Linked DNA regions of Homo sapiens. The protein of the gene in region 3 interacts with the protein of the main gene of each other region in a biochemical or structural test. Each region holds a gene or a part of one and is shown on either strand. Other genes may lie near its edges.

Region 1 (3,228 bases), 1.1 Mb from region 3:
GGAGGCAATTACGCGATAATTAAGCGACTCACACGGCTCTTTTTATCTTGTCCGCGGTGTGGAGTGGGGCGATCAAAGTAAAGGCTGTCCAAGTTCAAGCCCTGGTGAGGATGGAGTTCATACACAAGGGCTCAGGCAGGCAGGCCTCTGCTTGAGCTGGTGTTGTTATTGTTGATGTCAATCCGAACAAGACTTACAAAGAAATAGGTGGACTGGAAAGTGAGCCTGCTATCAAAGGAGATTAATGATTTTGTGATCCCAAGCAACTATGGAGTGTGAAGTTGCATTTAAAAGCTCCTTAGAAGGAAACAAATTATCAACTTTAAGTTCTTAGGAACGACATTTTTGAATCAAAATTTAAAACAATCTTCACAAAATGCAAAATAGCGGCTACCCTAAAATGTCCTGTCGGTACAACGCTTCCCCTGCGAGAGTGAATTAACTCCCCTCCTCCCACCTCCTCCAGAGCTACCCTGATGGCTAAGTTTCGTTTCTCTTTTAATGAGAAGAGAGTTCATGAGTCTCCGTTGGACACAACTTAATTCTATCAGCCACAGCTGATATTTTATTTTCATTGGAAGAATTCTCAGATAAAGAAAAGTGATACATTGGGGAAGGAGGAAAGGTAGTTAAATTAATATTTGATTTTGTAGTGAAAAGGCTCAAAGGAAACACAGAAGGCTTAAGCCGGTGTCAAAAAAAAAAAAAAAAATGAAGTAAACATCACTGGGAATAAAGAATCTTAAAAATCTCAACTCTTGGAATATTAAATCAACTTATACACTTTACTTGAATTTCTTTCACTCCTTTTTACTAGCTACACATTCATTATAACAACAGACAAAACAATTTTATTTTCATTTTTGTCATTTATATTCAGTTCTAGAATTTGAAAAATATCGTATTCAGAAATATTCACTTCGGATTTAGTTAAGTGAAAAAAAATAACAGAAATGCTCTTTTGTTAACATTTGATTTATTTAAAGTCCTTAACTGCAAATGATCAAGAACATTTTCCACGGCTTAAAATCTGGTATTATTTTTGTTATTTAAATCAAAATATTTTTAATTACAATCACATTGATAAAAATTAACAATTTAATTTGTAATTTTAACCATCATTTAAAGCAATTTCAGCTGTAAAGAAAAAGAATAAACCATGCAATAAATTAACATTGAGAAAGCAAAGAGAAATAATAATGAAACCCGTCTGGCTATACTAACACCATGTCCAACTGTGGAAAGTGCATAACACTGGATGAAACAAGCACACGATGGCAATGATTAAAATGGCCACTATCAATAGGATTTTTGAATCTTGGACCACGTTTTGAAATCCAGCTCCCTATAACTTATCTCTCCTCCAACATTGTAATATTCCCTTTTACTGAAAAAAAAATTCTTTAAATGGTATACACTCATAGAAACTAATTTTATGTGTTATGTGACCTCAGAATGACATGACCATGGCACTCTGCAAAGCAAGAAGCAGAGTTCTTGAGGGCAATTCCTGAGGAATTGATTCCCAGGGCCATCTGTGGGTAGAGAGGACAAAGGGGTTGGGGTCCTTGTAACTTTCGGTCAAGCAACTCTTGAGAATGTATCATGTATATCACCTATCTATTACCTCTATATGTTATGTAAATATACGGAGGATGTCTACACATCTGAGCATGTGCATAATTAAGTCCATACACAATATACATGTATTTCATTTAAAGACATCTGCTATCTGCATGTATCAGAAATGTAAACTGAGAAGCAAATGGCTCTGATGTTTATAATCTGTTTATGTCTTGCTATATAACAGCAGTATTGTCTTTCAATACTTTTAAGAGCCTCTAGTGTATACTTGTTTCTTCACCATTTCAATTCTTATGGTTAAGAGTATTGCCACAGACCTGTAAACTCGTAGGGGGTCAGGTAAGGAGGGGGAAAAAGCACAAACAAATATTTTACAAACTTGACCATCTTCCTTTTTTGTTTTTTTAAATAACCCTCCACAAACTAGAATGTCTGGAGGGGAAAGAGGGAAGAAAGAGAGGGGGGCAAGGAAGGAGGAGAATTTCATATATACACTTGTGGATCATTAAACTTCGCAGGAAAAAAATTGGTTTGGGGTTGTCTTTGTAGTAATATACACAATGAATTTTGAATACAATAATAAAGTAACAGTCTTTTGCACTGGGGGAAAGGTTGTGCATGAAAAATGAAATAAAAATAGTTGTTGGGATTTTATTATGCTGTTGACGGTTTGGTTTGTGTGGTTTTGTTTGCTGTTGATTTTTTCTCTCTTGCTACCAGCATGGCTATGCCAGACAAACCCCCCAGTCCCGGGAGCTAGGAAGTGTTTAGGACGGGTCTGGAATACACACCTTGGTAGTACGCCGGCTCCAGGGCTGAGGGCTCGATGGGGCTCCTGGTGGTCACCGAGGCGCTGCCTAGAGGCAGGCTGGCGGGCAACGTAGAGCCGTAAGGCGAGTATTGCAGTGCCTGTTCGTATGCCTTGAAGTCCAGCTTATGCTGCTGCTCCGAGGAGGACATGAGGTTGTTGATGGAGAACGGGTGGTTGAAGGAGTAGTGGGGGTCCCCTTTCAGGTGCAGCTGGGACTCGTGGGGTGCCAAGCCGTGTGCCGGGTGAGAGGCGGGCACAGAGGCCAGCGCCCCGGGCCCGGAGCTTATGGGGGGCGCAGTTGAGGAGGCTGGAGTCTTCAACTCCGAGGCGCCCCCTGTCGCCGTCGCCCCACTGTGGTCCAGAGTCTGGGGGCTGGCGGCGGGCCCGGGGGCCGGCGCGCCCTCTAGCTGGCCGGTCTTCCCGTGCACACCCCGATGGAGGGGCGAGTCGGCGCTGGGGTTAGAGGCGCCAGAGGGGTCCTTGCGGCTCTCAGGGCCGCCCTTGGCGCCGCTGCCCCCGCTTCCGCTCCCGCCCCCGCCGCCGGCCCCCGGCTGCTTCTCGCACTTGAAGCGCTTCTGGCGGCGCAAGTAGCAGCCGTTCTCGAACATGTTGCCGGAGTCCGGGTGCAGCGTCCAGTAGGAGCCCTTGCCCGGCTTGTCCGGGGAGCGTGCCACCTTGACGAAGCAGTCATTGAAGGACAGCGAGTGGCGGATGGAGTTCTGCCAGCGCTGCTGGTTCTGCCGGTAATAGGGGAAGAGGTCCATGATCCACTGGTAGATCTCGCTCAGCGTGAGCATCTTGCTGGGCGCCTGCTGGATGGCCATGGTGATGAG
Region 2 (7,868 bases), on a different chromosome or scaffold from region 3:
GGGTGGCCTTGCTCTCTACTTACCTTCCCTAGAATCCAGTTTCCTCATCTGCAAGATGGGTTGCCAAAAGGGTCTAGCTCATTTTTTCTAACTTAAAAAAAAAAAAAAAAAAAACTATGATTACTAGAGAAAAAAATTGAGCTGTGTACGTCAATCCTTTTATCTCCCTCTGTCACCTTCCTTTTTGTGTCCCCAGGAAGTTTTTTTTCCACCCATTTGTAAGTACCAGGGTCTCCTTCCAGAAGCCCAGGCAACTGCTGCCAAAGGCTGTGGGGTGGGCAAAGAGCCCAAGGGACAAGTGCCCAGGACACATCCCTACCCAAACCAACTGGACAAATGCCACCAGTGGTTTCTTCCAAACTGCCCTCGGCAGCCCAACCAGTGGCTCTTTTCCTTTCACCTGCCAGGACCTATATTTCTATTTCTGAGTTTTCAAAGCCTAGGGAGGTGGAGAACCTGGAATAATTAATGATTGATTTTCAGGCACTGCCACCAGGAGGCCCCAGGGCAGGCTGTCGGCCATTTCCTGAGTGCAGGGACAGGGTTGAAATCCCACGTGGCTTCGGCAGGATTGGGCAAGTCTGTGAGGGGAGAGGGTGGAGCGAAAACTGCCAGTGCCCTGAACACTTCTGCCCTCTGCAAAATGATGAAGTCGCTGCTGGAAGTTCTGCTGGGGTGCTGGCCTTCTGCCATTGACTCTCCCCTCTCTCTGGGTCAACGAATGTTAATTGCTGCCCTCACAGACACCCCTGCCCCACTGCTACCCTTGCACCCACGCCTGCACCCACAGGCACGGGCTCACTGGCCCTTTCCTCTCCAAGGCTCCTTTGGGAAAGGATTAAAGGAACCGACTTCCACAGCAAAACTTTAGGGACATTTTAACTTTGCCCTCTTTGGATGTATTCCTCTGCCTTTGTTGTCTAATAATAATTAACTTTTGTACAGAGGTGTAGTTTTCAAAGGGCCTTCACATTCATAATTTTATTCGTCCTCACAACAAAGCTACGAGGTGGGTCTGACCCTCCCCAGCCCCCCGTCTATATCCACATCATGCAGAAGGGGAAACTGAGGTTCGGGCAGAAGAAATCATCCCATTCTACACAATTAGGGCTGGAACACTCACCTCTGATGCAAAGTAGAGAGCTGCTGTTTTCTTCCTGAAGGGATGTACTTTAGTCCCAACAATGGTTCGTTACGTAGGGGAAGTGGCATGGTGGCAAGTAAGCCAGGAGGATTGTTGGGAGCAGTGGTCTTCCCTCGAGGCTGGTCTCTGGGCATTGTGCCCAGAGAAACCAGGGTACATAGGAGTAAGAGGAAGAGCTCATGGACCTACTGGAGTTCAAGGGTCTCAGTCACCTGAGCCAGCAGGTAGAATGACCCAAGTGTGCAAACAATCACCCACCCAATAGTCAGTTGAAACACGGCAGCTTATAAAAGACCCCCAAACCATCCCACTCCCACACTCTAATCAGCTAGGATGACCAATTCATCCTGATTTGCCCGGGAAAGTCCCAGTTTTAACTCGCATCTAGAAAACACTGTTGGTTTTCGTCCAGGGCAAACCAGGGCACTTTATTACCCTACCACCAGCCCAGTGCATTACAGCTGAGTCCAGAAAAGAAAGAACATCTTTTGAAGGCTCAGCAGATCAGCATAGAATTAAACAAATTGTGGGATATTATGCAAATTCAAAAACCACTGTAGTTAGGCAATTACCTAGGATTGTTGGAATGTTAAACCTGAAAGAATGTTCATTTCCACAAAGAAACGCTCAGATCTGCGGCCAGATCTCTTGCATTTTCAAAGGCAAGGCAGAGTTAGTCTCTCGTCTCTACTTCTGTATTTTGATATTGGCAATGAATTACATTTTCTCAAAAAAACACTGAGTTTAAAAAAATTATAACTAGTTGCCAGTTGATAATATTGCCACAAAAGCCTTATGGGCCTCAAGCCTGAGAAGAAAAGTTGGCAAATGAGGTATTCATTTTAAAAAGTGAGTTCTAAGGCCTGGCCAGGCACAGTGGCTCATGCCTGTGATCCCAGCACTTTGGGAGGCTGAGGCAGGCGGATCACTTGAGGTCTGGAGTTCGAGACCAGCCTGGCCAATGTGGTGAAACCCCGTCTCTACCAAAATATAAAAAATTAGTCAGGCATGATGATGCATACCTGTAGCCCCAGCTAGTCGGGAGGCTGAGGCAGGAGAATCACTTGAACCCAGGAGGTGGAGGTTGTAGTGAGCCGAGATCATGCCACCGCACTCCAGCCTGGGTGACAGAGTGAGACTAAGTCTAGAAGAAAAAAAAAAGAGTTCTAAAAGTCCCATTGAAAGTCTATTAGTCACAGTGCAAATTTATTTTAAAATTTCAAATATCATCATAGGAAGGCATATGATTTTTATTCTTAACTAAAAGCATCATGGATTTTAAGTTTGAAAAAATACTGTGATAATAGGTGATTTTAAAAATATATGTATTTCAAACCTTTCGTTTTGCAGAGGAGGAGACTGATGCCAAAGAGACAGAGTTAAAGCACCAGTTAATGACATTTCCTTGGCCTTGGTCTCAGAGAATTAGGAAGTACCAAGGAACCCAGGCCTGATTTCTGATTCTAATTAGAAGCAGGGTCAGTCCAGGAGGCCTGTGTTTATCTCTGCAGCAGAAGTTCACTGCATTCTCACTTCTTGCTCGTCCTAGATCTTCTCTGCTGAGTCTTCTGGTCACCTGCTATGTCACCTGCAGTCTGGAGAAGAGGTACTGTCAAGGTGTGGGGTGTGTTTTTCCCTGAGGAGTAACCTTGAACAGTGCACATTGTTTTTACCTTGAAATGAAATTTTAAAGATAAATTTATACATGGGACAGGAATGTTCTGATAACTTGCTGGATTTGTCCTCTAAGAAATTTTGCCCAAAAAGGGGATAGGAAAGGGAGAGGGTTCATTGCTTGGGCAGAAAAGATGTGCACAGGCAAGAATGATTGCATGAGAGTCAATGGTTATTGGTACGTATCAGAACCTTAGATTGGGTAGAATCTCTAAGGTTGTCAGAGCTGTTTGAAATGAGGGCGTATTAGATTCACCCTGGAGCATTGCCTCCCTGGTGGGAGGGAATCCTGGGTGGACAAAGAGAGTTTCTGCTGTGGCTGCCACACTCCACACCTCCCCTGCAGCAGGACACAATCCAGGGCAGCAAACTGGCCCATGGGGTCCGGAGGACCTATGCCAAGATCCATTTCCATCCCAACACCCTTGGATTGTCTCTCTCTGGGAGGGACTGCCAGAGAAGTTAGGGATCTGGAGCTTTGAAAACCACAGAGATATTTAAAATTACAATTTTAGAGAAAGATTTAAAATGATGAAGCACCAACTATTTTTGTTTACAGCCCCTCTTTGCAAATGTGGAGGAAACATGTAGGGATACACATCTTCTTCTCTCTTTTTTCACAAGATGATTCATTTCTCCTAAATTGAGAAATGAGAAAGACTGGGTGGAAGGAGGTTGTGGATTGACATGAAAGAGAAAACTTTTTTAATTCAGAAAAATAGTTCATGTGTTTTCACACACGTGTACATATGTGCATACACACACACACACACACACACACACACACATCCAATCCCCCTGAATATCCCAGTTTCCCCTGCACCTTCCTTGCCCCCCTCCCACTGGCTTCTTAGCCTCCTGTCCCAGAACAACCCCACCAGGCCTGCAGAGCCATCACTGAAAAGGGCATGGCTGTCCTCTAGACTGTAATCCTGAGTCCAGAGGTCTGGCCAAAGATTGGAGGAGCATCCAGGCCTTGACCCCCAGGCCTGCCAGTGTTCCAGGACATTTGCTCACTCATACCCACTCACAATCTTACGTGTACCCCGGTTCCCCGACTGAGAGAACTATGAGGAAGGAGGGGGCAGCTTTTGCCATCACTAAGGTAAAGAGGTGCCAGGCAGCTCTGCTCGGTCCCAGGGCTCACCAACCCTGCCATCATTCCCACCAGTGGACCCCTTCTTAACCACACCCAGGCCCCCATATTGCTGAGGCTATTGATTCCTACAGACCAGGCCAGAGGTCAGCTCAGTCCTGTTCCTTTCTAAGGCCTTTCCACACAGAGATGAAGTCTAGGCCCTCAATGCCCTTCCCCTGAACTCTTCTTCCAAGTTCAAAATCCTCAAGGAGCAAGAAAGAGGGCAGGTGGCTGCGTGTGTGTTCCAGAGGAGAGAGGCGAGGAGTTGCTGTGGAATGGGTTATGTGACAATTTTGTTAGCCTGACAATGCAAGGGTGTGAACGCTATCTGTGTAGAACAGAGGGAATGGCTTCAGGTGCTGCTCAGGATTCTTCCCTGGAAGAGGTCATAGCTGTGGTGAGAAGGTAATAGCATCTTGCCTACAGCCCCGAAAGCAGGCTCTACCTAAAGAATCAGGCATAAAACAGAAGTTCCCTCCTTCCTTTTACAAAAGAAAAGGCTGCTTCCTGGTGAGCAAACCAGGGGAGACAGGGGGCAAGGAGGGCATCCTACAGAGACCATCCCTCTCACTTCTGGTGGTCAGTGACCCAGGAGGACCCAGAGAACCTCATCCTCAGGCTCCTAGGCCTCTGTTCCCCACTCCTCCAATATTTCCAGGCCTGCTGAGTTAGGGCTCAGCTGCCTCCCTCTTCCCTCCGCTGGAAACAGAAGCTCCCAGCGAATGTTTCTAACTCCTGAGTCCACTCAGCCATGTCCCCCTTGCAAAATCCTCCCCTTCCCGCACCCCCCTGCACCCAGCCAGCCAATCCGCGGCCTACGAGCCTCGCCAGACCCATCTCCCAGGGCCTCAGCGGGATAAAACCGGTCGGTGATGCCGGGTGGATGGGAACAAACTTCAGAAGGAGGAGAGACACCGGGCCCAGGGCACCCTCGCGGGCGGACCCAAGCAGTGAGGGCCTGCAGCCGGCCGGCCAGGTATGTCACCCAGGGGTTAGCTGGAAGCTGGCTAGCAGTGAGGACGGGGGATGGAAGAAAGGAGAGGGTCCCAGGATGCCTGGCAGCCTTTTCCCTCCCAAGTTAAACGGGATAAGACTGGGACAGCGGAGGGAGTGGGCACGGAGGTTGGAGTCTGGAGCTTCTTCAGCGCACTCCCAATCCTTGATCCTCCCGGGAAGCCTGTTAGCTAGGCTAGGCTGAGGTTGGCCCTACTTCGCCTAAAAATCCTCCTACTCCTGGCAGACGATGCAGGTGTAAAGGATGAGGCCTGGGGAGGGGGCCTGAGGATGCAGGCATCGAATCTCATCGCATCTCATGCCCTTCTCCTGGGTTTGTGCAGGGCAGCGGCAGGCGCGGCCCGGACCTACGGGAGGAAGCCCCGAGCCCTCGGCGGGCTGCGAGCGACTCCCCGGCGATGCCTCACAACTCCATCAGATCTGGTAAGAACGCGGTGTGGTCAGGATCCCCGAGCCCCCGCGCCGCTGAGCGTCCGTGCGTGCGCTCGGGTGGTTGGATCTCGAGAGCGTCAGCACGGGATTCGCGGGACCCACCCGCGTGGGGACCCAGCTGGGGCGCCTGGGGCCTGGCCCTCCGCTGGAGCCGCCTCGCTGTTCTCGGGCACTGGGGTTCCACCCGGCCAGCTGAGCCGCCCTTGCCCGGTTTCGAGGGACCACATGGATCGGTGAGGGGATCTCTGTGGAGTTAGAGGGGGTTTCCTTTGAGCTCCATTCCCAGCCTTGCATGGCGCATTAGTGTGGACATTCTTCGTGCTCTGTCCCTGGGCTGCACCGGTGCTGGACTTGCCGTTTCCCCGTCCCCGACCTCTAAGTCCTCTTCCTCGGGTGCGCGCAGTCCTTCCCAGTGACTCCCCTGGCTGGACTGTGAGCTCCCCGCATCTCTCAAGCCAACGGCAATGGAGCCGGTGGTCCCGGGCCCGGGAGCCGGCAGCGCACTCAGGTGCTCTCCGACTCCTCCTGGCCCAGCACCGGGCAGGCCGGGCGCCGCGCGCGGGGCGTCCGGCTGGTGAGGACTAAGCCGCTCGCGGAGTCAAAACCCCCTCCCCACCTGCGCCCGGAAGCAGGGCCTTCAAACACACTCGAGCTCCCAGGCCGCGATGCCTGTTTTCCCCCTTCCCGGCCAGGGCTGGGCAGGGTCTTTGCTGGGAAGGAGCTCCAGGGTCAGGGCTGGTGGGCGCAGCCGTCCCGGCGCGCAGCGAGTGCGGACAGCGGTGGAGGCGCAGCGCGGCCCGCAGTGATGGATGGAGCCCGGCCGGCCGCAGAGAAGGCGATTTATGGGGCCAGGGCGCATCGCTATCGATTTGGGCCGGCGAAGTGAGAGGAAATCAATATTTCAGAATGAATTCTCCGCGAATATGATGTCCCGCTCTGCAAACGGGACATTTGTTATAATAAGGAGGGTCGGATCGGGCGCGCAGCGAGGCTGAGATCTCTATTTAGCCAAGCGCACTGCGGGGGCCCGGGCTCTGCGGCGCAGTCTCCAGTCCCAGGGCCATGGCCCAACTAGGAGGGGAGCGGGAACCCCCTGGGGCGCCGGAAGATTTCTCACTCGGGTTCTCTCTAGAGCTGCAGACGAATGCTCCCTCCCGGCCCCCATTCCCCTCAGAGACCTGGGCCAGAATCGTCCGGCTGCCCCCAGAAGGCGCGGGGTCCCTTCAAGGTCCTCAGGGGAGAGACCTCGCAGCCATTCCCCGGCGCGGCGGGGTTGGGGAGCCCTGGGACCGAGCAGAGCTCCCTGGCACCTCTTTACGGTCCGCGTCCTGGAACCACGAGCGCTCCTAGGCCACTATCTAAGGTCAGGATCAGGTTTTAGTCCCTTAATCTTTAGCCAAACCGTGGTACGATACCAGACATCGCCAGGACCATCCCTGAGGCCTAATGTGCAGTGCCCGGTGCCCATGCCAAGCTGGTGCAATGGCACTTCTGCGCCAAGCTGGTGCAATGGCACTTCTGCTCGGCTCTGGAGGTCCATCTTTCCTCCTAACCTTCCCCTGACCCTTCCGGCGGTGGCAGGAGGAGTGAGTGCTCTCGGAAATCAAATTCACTGTGGCCGGGCTGGACCCTTACTCTCTGCCGCTGCCCAAGAAATGAGACGATGTCCCCGTCCCTCAGATGAGCTTTTTTTTTTTTTCGCGGCTACTTATTTTCATTCTAGAAGTACTCGTTAGAATAGATGGAAATAGAGTATGGAAAGAATAAATAAAGGCACAATTTATTTTTACTGTAGTTTTAATCAGGAACAGTCCCAGATGATGAGATGCGCGCTTTCCCACTAGCTTGGATGCAAATCGCGCTTGGGTTTTGGGAGGGAGCCCTCTGCCCCTGGACCTACCAGGTAATTTTTTTCCCCTTTCTTCTTTTCGGGAAGACAGAGGGGCTTCTTCTACCCTCTTTCCAAAACAAATAGACAAAGTGGCGAGGGAGGGAAGATGAGACTTTCTTCTCATAGTTTAATTTAAACGCTAATAAAACAAGAAAATGGCCTATAACCGCATAGACTGCTGAAGGCGCTCCCTGTTTCTTTTCTGAACCCTCCCTCGGCAAACCTGAGGGAGAGGCCGTCTGTCTTTCTGATCAGCTTACCTGACACTGTTGTCTATAACCGGAGCTAAACTCATAAGCGGACCCCTCTGGTTTTTACAAGCCCATTATCTCTCGGGTTTTAGCAGGTTCCCCCTTTTCCCCAGGCACCTCTGTTCCTGAGACCGGCCGTGCTTAGGGAGCTCCCCTTGAGTTTTCTGTGAGCAGAGCCCGGGACGCAGGCGGCCACACGGCTTTCCGCGGGAGCGAGGCCGAGCGCACCCTTCCCAATAACCGGGGACGCTCGAGAAAACCTCCCCGCGCGGCCTCCGCCGCCCAGCCTGCCACGGGGTCGCCTCGTCGTTGGCTGGTCTTGCC
Region 3 (7,462 bases):
GGGAAGCGGTGAGGCAGAGCGCTGGGCTAGGGCCGGCCCGGCGTCCTCTCACCAGGTCCGACCGTATAGCAAGGTGGAGCAGGACATGGTGCCGTAGTCCGAGCCCGAGGAGTTCAGGTGGGACAGGCTGGATACCTGGCCCTGCAGCGCCGCGGGGCTGGCGGCGTGGTGCGCCAGGTCCGGAGACTGGCCTGCGCTGCCTGGCTGGTGGCCCGGGTGTGCGCCAAGGCCGGCGCCACCGCTGCCCACGGAGATGGCCGCTGCCGCCGCCTGCGCGGCCTGCGCCTGGTGCTGCGCCTGCTGCTGCGCGTGGCCTTGTAGGCTGGCGGCGCCCGGCGCGGGGGCACCCGCCTGGCACGGTTTGCCGTCTTTCACCAGGACCGGCACCGCCACGCGTCGCGGCGACTGCTGCTGAGCCTGTTGCTGCTGCGGGCACCCGGTGCCCCCGCCGCCCCCGCCGCCGCCGCTGTCCTGCTGCAGTTGCTGCTGCGCCGCCTTGTCCTTGGCCTGGCGCTTCATTTTGTAGCGGTGGTTCTGGAACCAGATCTTGACCTGCGTGGGCGTCAGGTGGATCATGCTGGCCAGGTGCTCGCGCTCCGGCGCCGACAGGTACTTCTGTTGCTTGAAGCGTCGCTCCAGCTCGTACACCTGCGCCTGCGAGAAGAGCACCCGGCGCTTCCTGCGCGGCGCGCTTGGCAGCGGGGCCATGTTCTTGCTCACGTCCCCCAGCGAGCCCAGGCCGCCCATGCCGCTCATGTTCATGCCGCTCGCCGGGCCCATGAAGCGGGAGACTGTAAGCGACAAACGCACAGCGTCGGCCGGGGCCAGGCCGAGCCAGGCCACCCCTGTTTTCCGCGCCATTGGCCCGCCCGGCCCGCCCCAACCGACGGCGCCCTCCTGACCCAGGCAGCCTAGCGCTGGGGCCCAAGAGGCCCATCCGCGGGGAACTGCCAGCGCCTGCCCCAGGCCGTACCGTCGAGGGGGCTGTACTGGAGCGCTCACAGCCCCAACCCTGGCTGCCCTCCCTCAGTCTCAGTTCCCTCTTTCGAACCAAAAGACGCAGTGGGGGAAAGGCCGCTTCTGCTCCTTTCGTGCCCAGCCCGGGTCAGAGCATTAGGATTAGCTGGCCACAGGCGGCGAACTGGGCTCAGGCCGGGAGCTGGGGTCCTACGGTAGACCCCAGTTTGGAGAGGTTAGGAGAGGGGGTGTTGACTTCCAAAAGCTGGAGCCCCCAGACGCTTTGCCTCTTGGCTTCTCTCCTGTCAGGCCCCAGTGAGGGCACCTGCTCGGACCCTTAGAGTCCCCTCTGGAACTGCGAGTCCTCCCACCTGCCCAGACTCCGCTGGAGAGAGGGCCGGGCCGGGCGCTCGAGTGCCTCCCAACAGGGCAGCCTCCCTCCTGGCCCGGTCTAGCCTCTCCGCGCTCTGCTCGCCCCTGCTCCTTGAGCTCGGGGTCGCTTCCCTTGGCTCCCCGAGGTCTTCTGCGCCGAGCAGAGCTGCCAGTCCACCGCGCCTAGGAGACGCCGAGTACCCGCATCTGACCGCAGGACCCCAGCGCTACCAAGTGCCTGTTCTTGGACCCCCAGCCGAGCAGGGGGAAGCATCCCCAGCTCCCGCACCCAAGTCCCTGGCGCCGCTGCCGGGCCGCCCTCCCTGATGCCCAGCGCGCAGCCTGCCGGCGCCGCGCCTTCTGGACGGCTCTCGCCGCACCTCCTGAGCTCAGCCCGCGGCCCCGCAGTGGGGCGGCCTCACTTACTGGCGGGGAAGCGCGGGTCTGGGTTGGCGCCGTACCATCCGGGGCCAGAGGCGCTGTTCCTCATGGTGTCCTGGTACGGCGGCAGCTCGCTCATGTTGCCCAGGTTGCCGTTGCAGTAGCCCCCCACGGCGGAGTGCGAGAGCTGGGGCACCCCCGCCGCCGTCATGTGGTAGGCGGCGGTGACGGCGCCGTGGTGCCCCACGGCGTGCTGCTGCATGGCCGCTGTTGGCGGTGCCGCCTGGCCCTGCCTGTACGCCGCCAGCGGAGCCCCGAGGCCGCCGCCCTCCATGCCCACTTTCTTGTAGCTTTCCTCCAGGGGACTCAAGATGTCAGACACTGAGAACGGAGTCGTGTGCTTTGGACTCATCGACATGATTCGGCGGCGGCTGGAGGAGGAAGGAAGAGGAGGAAAAAAAAGGGAGAGGGGGAAGGCGAAGCCTCGCTGCTTTTTTTTTCTCCCTTTGCCAAATATTCTGGTGTTACCTTAACGCCGATCTTGTTGGATGTACACGTAACGGAGTGGACCGAGTCCTCCTTAATTGGCTTGAGTGGAGGCTCGGGGGCTGCCTCGCGTTTGTTTTAGCCCGGCGCCAGGTTTTAGGCAGCCACCAGAGGCGGGGCGTAAGCGCTAAAGCAACAAGACAATAGAAGCCTACATCTTGCCCGAGATAATTAGCTTACATGCTGATGACAAGGTAAACACCTTTAAGTTTCACTTGTCAGGATTTTTAGGTCTCAAAGAGAGAGAGAGAGAGGCAGAGACGAGACCCAAAGCATTTCCCCCCTCCCTTGGACACCCCCACCCCCATTTTTTGTGGGGTACCAGCGGAGCGCGGGGAGGAGGTGGAGGGGAGGGGAAGGAGGAGGGAACCGAGAGCGGGGAGGGCAGGAGGTGGGGTGGGGGAGTAACAGAGGAGGAGAGATGGTTGAGAGGAAGGAAGGTGAATGCTGCTTTGCAACCAACTTGCGGAGTTACAAAGTGGAACCACTTTCCAATTCGGTCGGGGTTCCCCGGGCACGGACAGGTCTTTAGGAGGAGGGGGCTGAGGGACAGGGTGGGGGTTTCACCTGAGCCTGCCGGGGCTGCTCCTCCCTCCCGCCGCGGCCTCCCAGCCCCGCGCCTTCCCACTGCCTCCGGACCACATCGGGCTTCGCTGCGCTGAGCCCCAGTCGCCAACAAATGAGCGAGCGAGTCTGGGGACGAACCCTGGGGCCGCACTGTTGGTCTACGTGTCTGTCAGTCTGTCTGCCTCTCTTCTGCCGCCGTCAGAGGGACACCTCTGCTCCCCGCCCCCTTTCCCCCTACCGGAGAGAATCCGAGCGGGCGGAGGGGGCGCTGAGTAGGGGATCGACTGCCTCCCGGAGGCTGTCCCGGATCCCCGAGCCACAACCCGCCCCCGCAGCTCAGGGGTTTTTCAGTGGGCCACCCCCGCTAACACGCCTCCCCCAAGGTCTTCCCCCCCCCCCCCCACCCCCGGCCGAGCAAACACAGCACTGGCCCCCAGAGCTGGGAGGATGGGAAGGGGTCTCACGGGAGGGTCCGTCACTGAAGTTGCCCCACCTCGAACAAACCTGGTGTCCCTGACCCTCGCCCATCTCCCAGACACGCGGGGATCTGGGGCTGGAGCTGACTTTCCGAGGACATCACAGCCCCAGCACCCGAGCCCAGAGCCACGCTGTTTTCCCCTCTGATGCTTCAGGGAGCGCGCGAGCAGGGAGCGGCGTGAGTGCCCGTCTGTCTGTTGCCGGGCGGAACTGAGCCTGAACCCCGGCGGCTGGAGCGCTGGCCAGGAGGGGGCGAATGCCGAGGTGCGGGCAGCTCAGCGGGCGGGAGGCTGGGCCGAGGCTCGCCTCCGCCCGCAGCTCAGCCATGCAAAAGTGCTCTTGCTTCCCGGGAATAACCAAATATCTTTGTTTAAAGTGGTGGCGTAAATGGCCAGTCGCTTTGTGGCCACGCTGGATATTAGTAGATGAGGATCATTCTGCTTCAATTGGGCGCCTCTCATCCGACGAGCAAGAAACTGCTTAGGAGGAAGAGGGTTTCCTGTCTGCGCGTTCCCAGGCTTCAAGTGTGGGCCCCGCGCCTTGAGGGTCCTTGGGCGCCTGGCGAGGGGGAGCTGTGGGCTGCGCTCCCCAGCGGAATCGGGGGTGTCCCCCGCGTTGCTCCGGCCAGGCCGGGGCCTGCAGCCGAGTCGACTACCGAGTGGAGCACTGAACGGCGCGGATTTTGAGACCGACTCCGGTTTTTGTCCTTGGATTTTAAACGTTTTTATCATTGTTTTTGTTTTGCTTTCTCCTTAGCTGTTTTAGTCTCCTCTGCGCGCCAGGGGCTGGGAGGGCGGAGCGCTCCCCGGCCGGCCCCGGCAGGTGCCTCCAAGACACCCGCGCTGGTCAAGGAGCTTCTTGAATTTAGTTTTTGTTTTCACATTTTCTTTCCCCTCCTTGTAGAGAAGGAGCTCCTGATCATGACGAACAGGCAGTTTTGAGCTACTTAATTCATCCGGGCTCCCTTTTTTTATTAATAGCAATTACAGTAGAGAAAGTTTTATTTATTTTTAAAGATTTCAGCCCTCTCCTTGAAGAGAGCTCTTACTCCCTCAATACAAAGCCAACTTCTATAATAACATTCGCTTTTCTCACCGCCTACCTTCTTTACCAGGGTAAAGAAAGCTCAGGACACCCTCCGCCCTCCCACCTGCGCCCGCGTTTTTGTGCGGTCCCCACGGCAGAGCTGGGGAGGCCACCCTACGTTTGCGCAGGGAGACGCGCTCGCCGCTGGTGTTGCGAAAGACCAGAGCGAAGCCCGGCTCCTTGCCCTTCCTTCCCAGGGGCTTCTCTGGGGGGCGCTCTCAGGCCCCGACGAACTGAGCATTGATCACTGTGGTGGCTAAGCAAGGAGGGGAGGCGACGCCGGGCTTAAGCGAACCACAGAGGAGAACTGGCAACGCTGAATACAGACCTTGTCTGCAGGCGCGACCTGGCCGGGCCTGAGTCCCGAATGGGGTCTAATTGCGAAGGCGGGGTGGGTTTCCCAGTCACCCAGCTTCTTTCTCTCACTCGCCATTATTTCATAGTTGTTTGTAAGTTTAAGGAACACCAAGTGTAGAATGTTGTACATCTCTTCCAGTCTCAACGCCATTTAGAAATGGAGATCAATCTTCACAAGGTTTTTGTGAGATTCAAGTAAGATGAAGCACATCAAAATGCTTTGAAAGCTTTGAATGTTTTTCAGCTCAGTGCCAGCACTGGAGATTGCGGTAGTTATTATCATGACTATCCCCACCCCCTCTTAGGTCCCAAGACCTGAGTAAAAGGAAGAGTTGGGTGAATCTTCCACAGCCCCTAGGTCCTGTCTTCTCGGCCTTCGTCCCTTGGCAGCTTTTCAACCTCTCAGCAGGCCACAGGCGCACGTGGCTGGCAGCTCCCCGGCCTCCGGCTCTGACAGTCCGGGGGCAACCAGGCCTGCAGTTCTCGAGGAAACCCCCAGCCCCCCACGTCTCGTTCTGGACCAGGAACCCCCTCCCCAACAACCGCGCAGCAAGTGGCGACTCTGGGAGCTGAACTGGAGTGGAGCTCGAAGTGGCTGGGGCGGGCAAAGACTCCCGCTTCACTCTGGGACACAACTGGGACGGCGCTTCAACCTCTGCCTGCAGGCGTGCTTCTCGCGCGCACCAGCAAGCTCTCTATCCACCTCGCCTGGGCCTTTGCAGCGCCCTGCCGCCCAGGCTCCAGCGCCTCTACTACCCTAGCCCCTTCTCAACACGCGGCTCTGCCTTCTTCCCCAGTACCACTGCACTGCCGAAAATAAGCCCGGAGACTAACGCACCTTGTAGGGAAGAGAAGGACATCTGTATCTCCAAGCTTATCCAAGCAAAGGCCTCCAGAGTCCCTCCCATGGCCCGAAACACCTCCCTCTGACCGAAGAGCGTCCTTTCTTTCCGCCGCCTCCTGGACTCATCCTAAATAGGGCAGACCCGGGCTAAACCAGTGATTTTTTTTTCCATGAATACGAAGAACCCCGATTGCACTTTGCGAAGTCTGCGCGTATTCCTTTATCCCGCAACTAGCTTGCTCCCGGGTGGAGTGGGCACAGTGGGGAGCGGTCAGGGCAGGGCAGGGCCCAACGCTGGCCCCTCGCGGAGCTTTCCCTGGCGCGACCTCACACGGTCGCTGCCTCTATTCCGACCACGCTCTGCTTCGCTGGCTGCGGCTCCGCCAGGAATCCGAGGGGGCGCAGGCCCAGGCTCGGCCCTAGATGCGCGGAATCGCCATCAGCCTTTGCTTACACCAGCGTGGCCGCAGGGAAACTCCTTTCTCTCCCTCCAGTGTCACTTTGCGAGACAAGAACAGAGGGCTCATACAAAAGAAGGCTAATTTGGGGTCTGTAGCTTGGACCAGGTGGAACTGTGAGGAGGAACCACCTGTCTCACCGCCCCACCCCCCAACTGCTTTTTCTAACTCCCTTTGTGGTCCTCCACACCTGTTTAGGGCGCTGAGCCACTCTGTCTCCTGGTAGTGTTATTTTGCTCCAAGTTTTATCGCAATTTTTGATTCACTCGACAGTATTTATTCAGCTAGGGCTCTGTGCCAGGGACTACGCAAGGCCTGAAAATTCAAACTTAATCTAGATGCAGCTCCTACTCACACGGAACTTACACATTCACAATAAATCACCCAAATAATATGTAGTTACTTTCTGACAGATGTTACTCTAGGATCCAGTGAGATAGAGAGGGTTGTAATGGAGATTCGTGTGTGGGTTTTTGCACCATTTCTTGATCTCTCAGCATTCCAAGGTCGTGAGAGGAGTCCTTGAGTGGAAGTCCGTCCTAGGTTTGAACCCTGGCTTTGCCTTTTTCCAGCTGTGCAGTACCGCTCTTGTGGGCTCCCGCCACACCCTGGAGTCACTCCCATCACAGCCAGAGTAAACCAGTGTGTGTTTTCTGGCTTCCCTCCTTGAGGGTGAGCCCCTGTTTTATCTATCTTTGAACCCCCCAGTGCCTCGAGAAACGCTGAGGAAACACAGCCTCCGAGCACCTGTTTCCTGAGCTGTAAAAAATGGTCACAACCTGCCCTGTGTACTGGCTTGGTTTGTGCTAGGGATCCAAACAATTCAGGATGAGATCATGTGCCTGAGTTTGTAGATCACAAAAGTCGCTAATAGAAGGAGTTATTCCTTCTGATTCTGTATTTTGGATTTAGAGAAACTGTGACTCTAGGCCTCTGACCTTCAACAAGAAACACTTGGGCCCCTCAGTTGCTCCCGCAGTCTCCCACAGCTAGGCACAGGCTTCTAAGCCGGGCTGAGCTGGGCTCGCGAGTGCCATCGAGGCAACCAGGCGCAGGGAGCGGAAGGCAGGAGTGTAACTGGGCGCTGGGGGGCGCTGCTCCGCAACCCCAAGATCCGAGGAATGCCTCCGGGGGATGATTTCTCTGGAGGGGTCTCGCAGGGCCCCCTCTGCGCTGCTTTCTCAGGCACCAGAACCGAAATCCTCGGGAGGGACCGCGGGAGCCCGGGGCGTGCAGACAGGCGGCTTTCACAGACGCAGCGGGAGGAAGGATCCCTCTACTGCTCCCTTTCCCGATTTGACCGTCTAGGGCCTTTGAGAGGACTTTCCTTTTGGGAAAGCTTTTCTCAATTCGTGGCCTGTGGGCAGGCTGGGGGGTGGGGCGCCAAGTCATCCGAGCGCGGCTTCTGCTTCTCCCT

Evidence for each region.
Region 1: the proteins of NKX2-1 (region 3) and FOXA1 form a complex in vitro, tested with the Homo sapiens proteins (one study listed by BioGRID).
Region 2: the proteins of NKX2-1 (region 3) and PAX8 form a complex in vitro, tested with the Homo sapiens proteins (one study listed by BioGRID).

The regions. Positions count from the first base shown.
Region 1 is NC_000014.9:37,589,025-37,592,252, forward strand, and holds the end of FOXA1 (hepatocyte nuclear factor 3-alpha), read right to left. Parts: coding exon 2,341-3,228; 3' UTR 528-2,340; downstream 1-527. UniProt on the Homo sapiens protein: Transcription factor that is involved in embryonic development, establishment of tissue-specific gene expression and regulation of gene expression in differentiated tissues.
Region 2 is NC_000002.12:113,275,895-113,283,762, reverse strand, and holds the start of PAX8 (paired box protein Pax-8), read left to right. Parts: upstream 1-4,841; 5' UTR 4,842-4,932; intron 4,933-5,293; 5' UTR 5,294-5,368; coding exon 5,369-5,393; intron 5,394-7,868. UniProt on the Homo sapiens protein: Transcription factor for the thyroid-specific expression of the genes exclusively expressed in the thyroid cell type, maintaining the functional differentiation of such cells.
Region 3 is NC_000014.9:36,517,230-36,524,691, forward strand, and holds the start of NKX2-1 (homeobox protein Nkx-2.1), read right to left. Parts: upstream 3,004-7,462; 5' UTR 2,901-3,003; coding exon 2,824-2,900; intron 2,451-2,823; exon of another isoform or gene 2,142-2,450; coding exon 1,756-2,141; intron 792-1,755; coding exon 49-791; 3' UTR 1-48. UniProt on the Homo sapiens protein: Transcription factor that binds and activates the promoter of thyroid specific genes such as thyroglobulin, thyroperoxidase, and thyrotropin receptor. Crucial in the maintenance of the thyroid differentiation phenotype.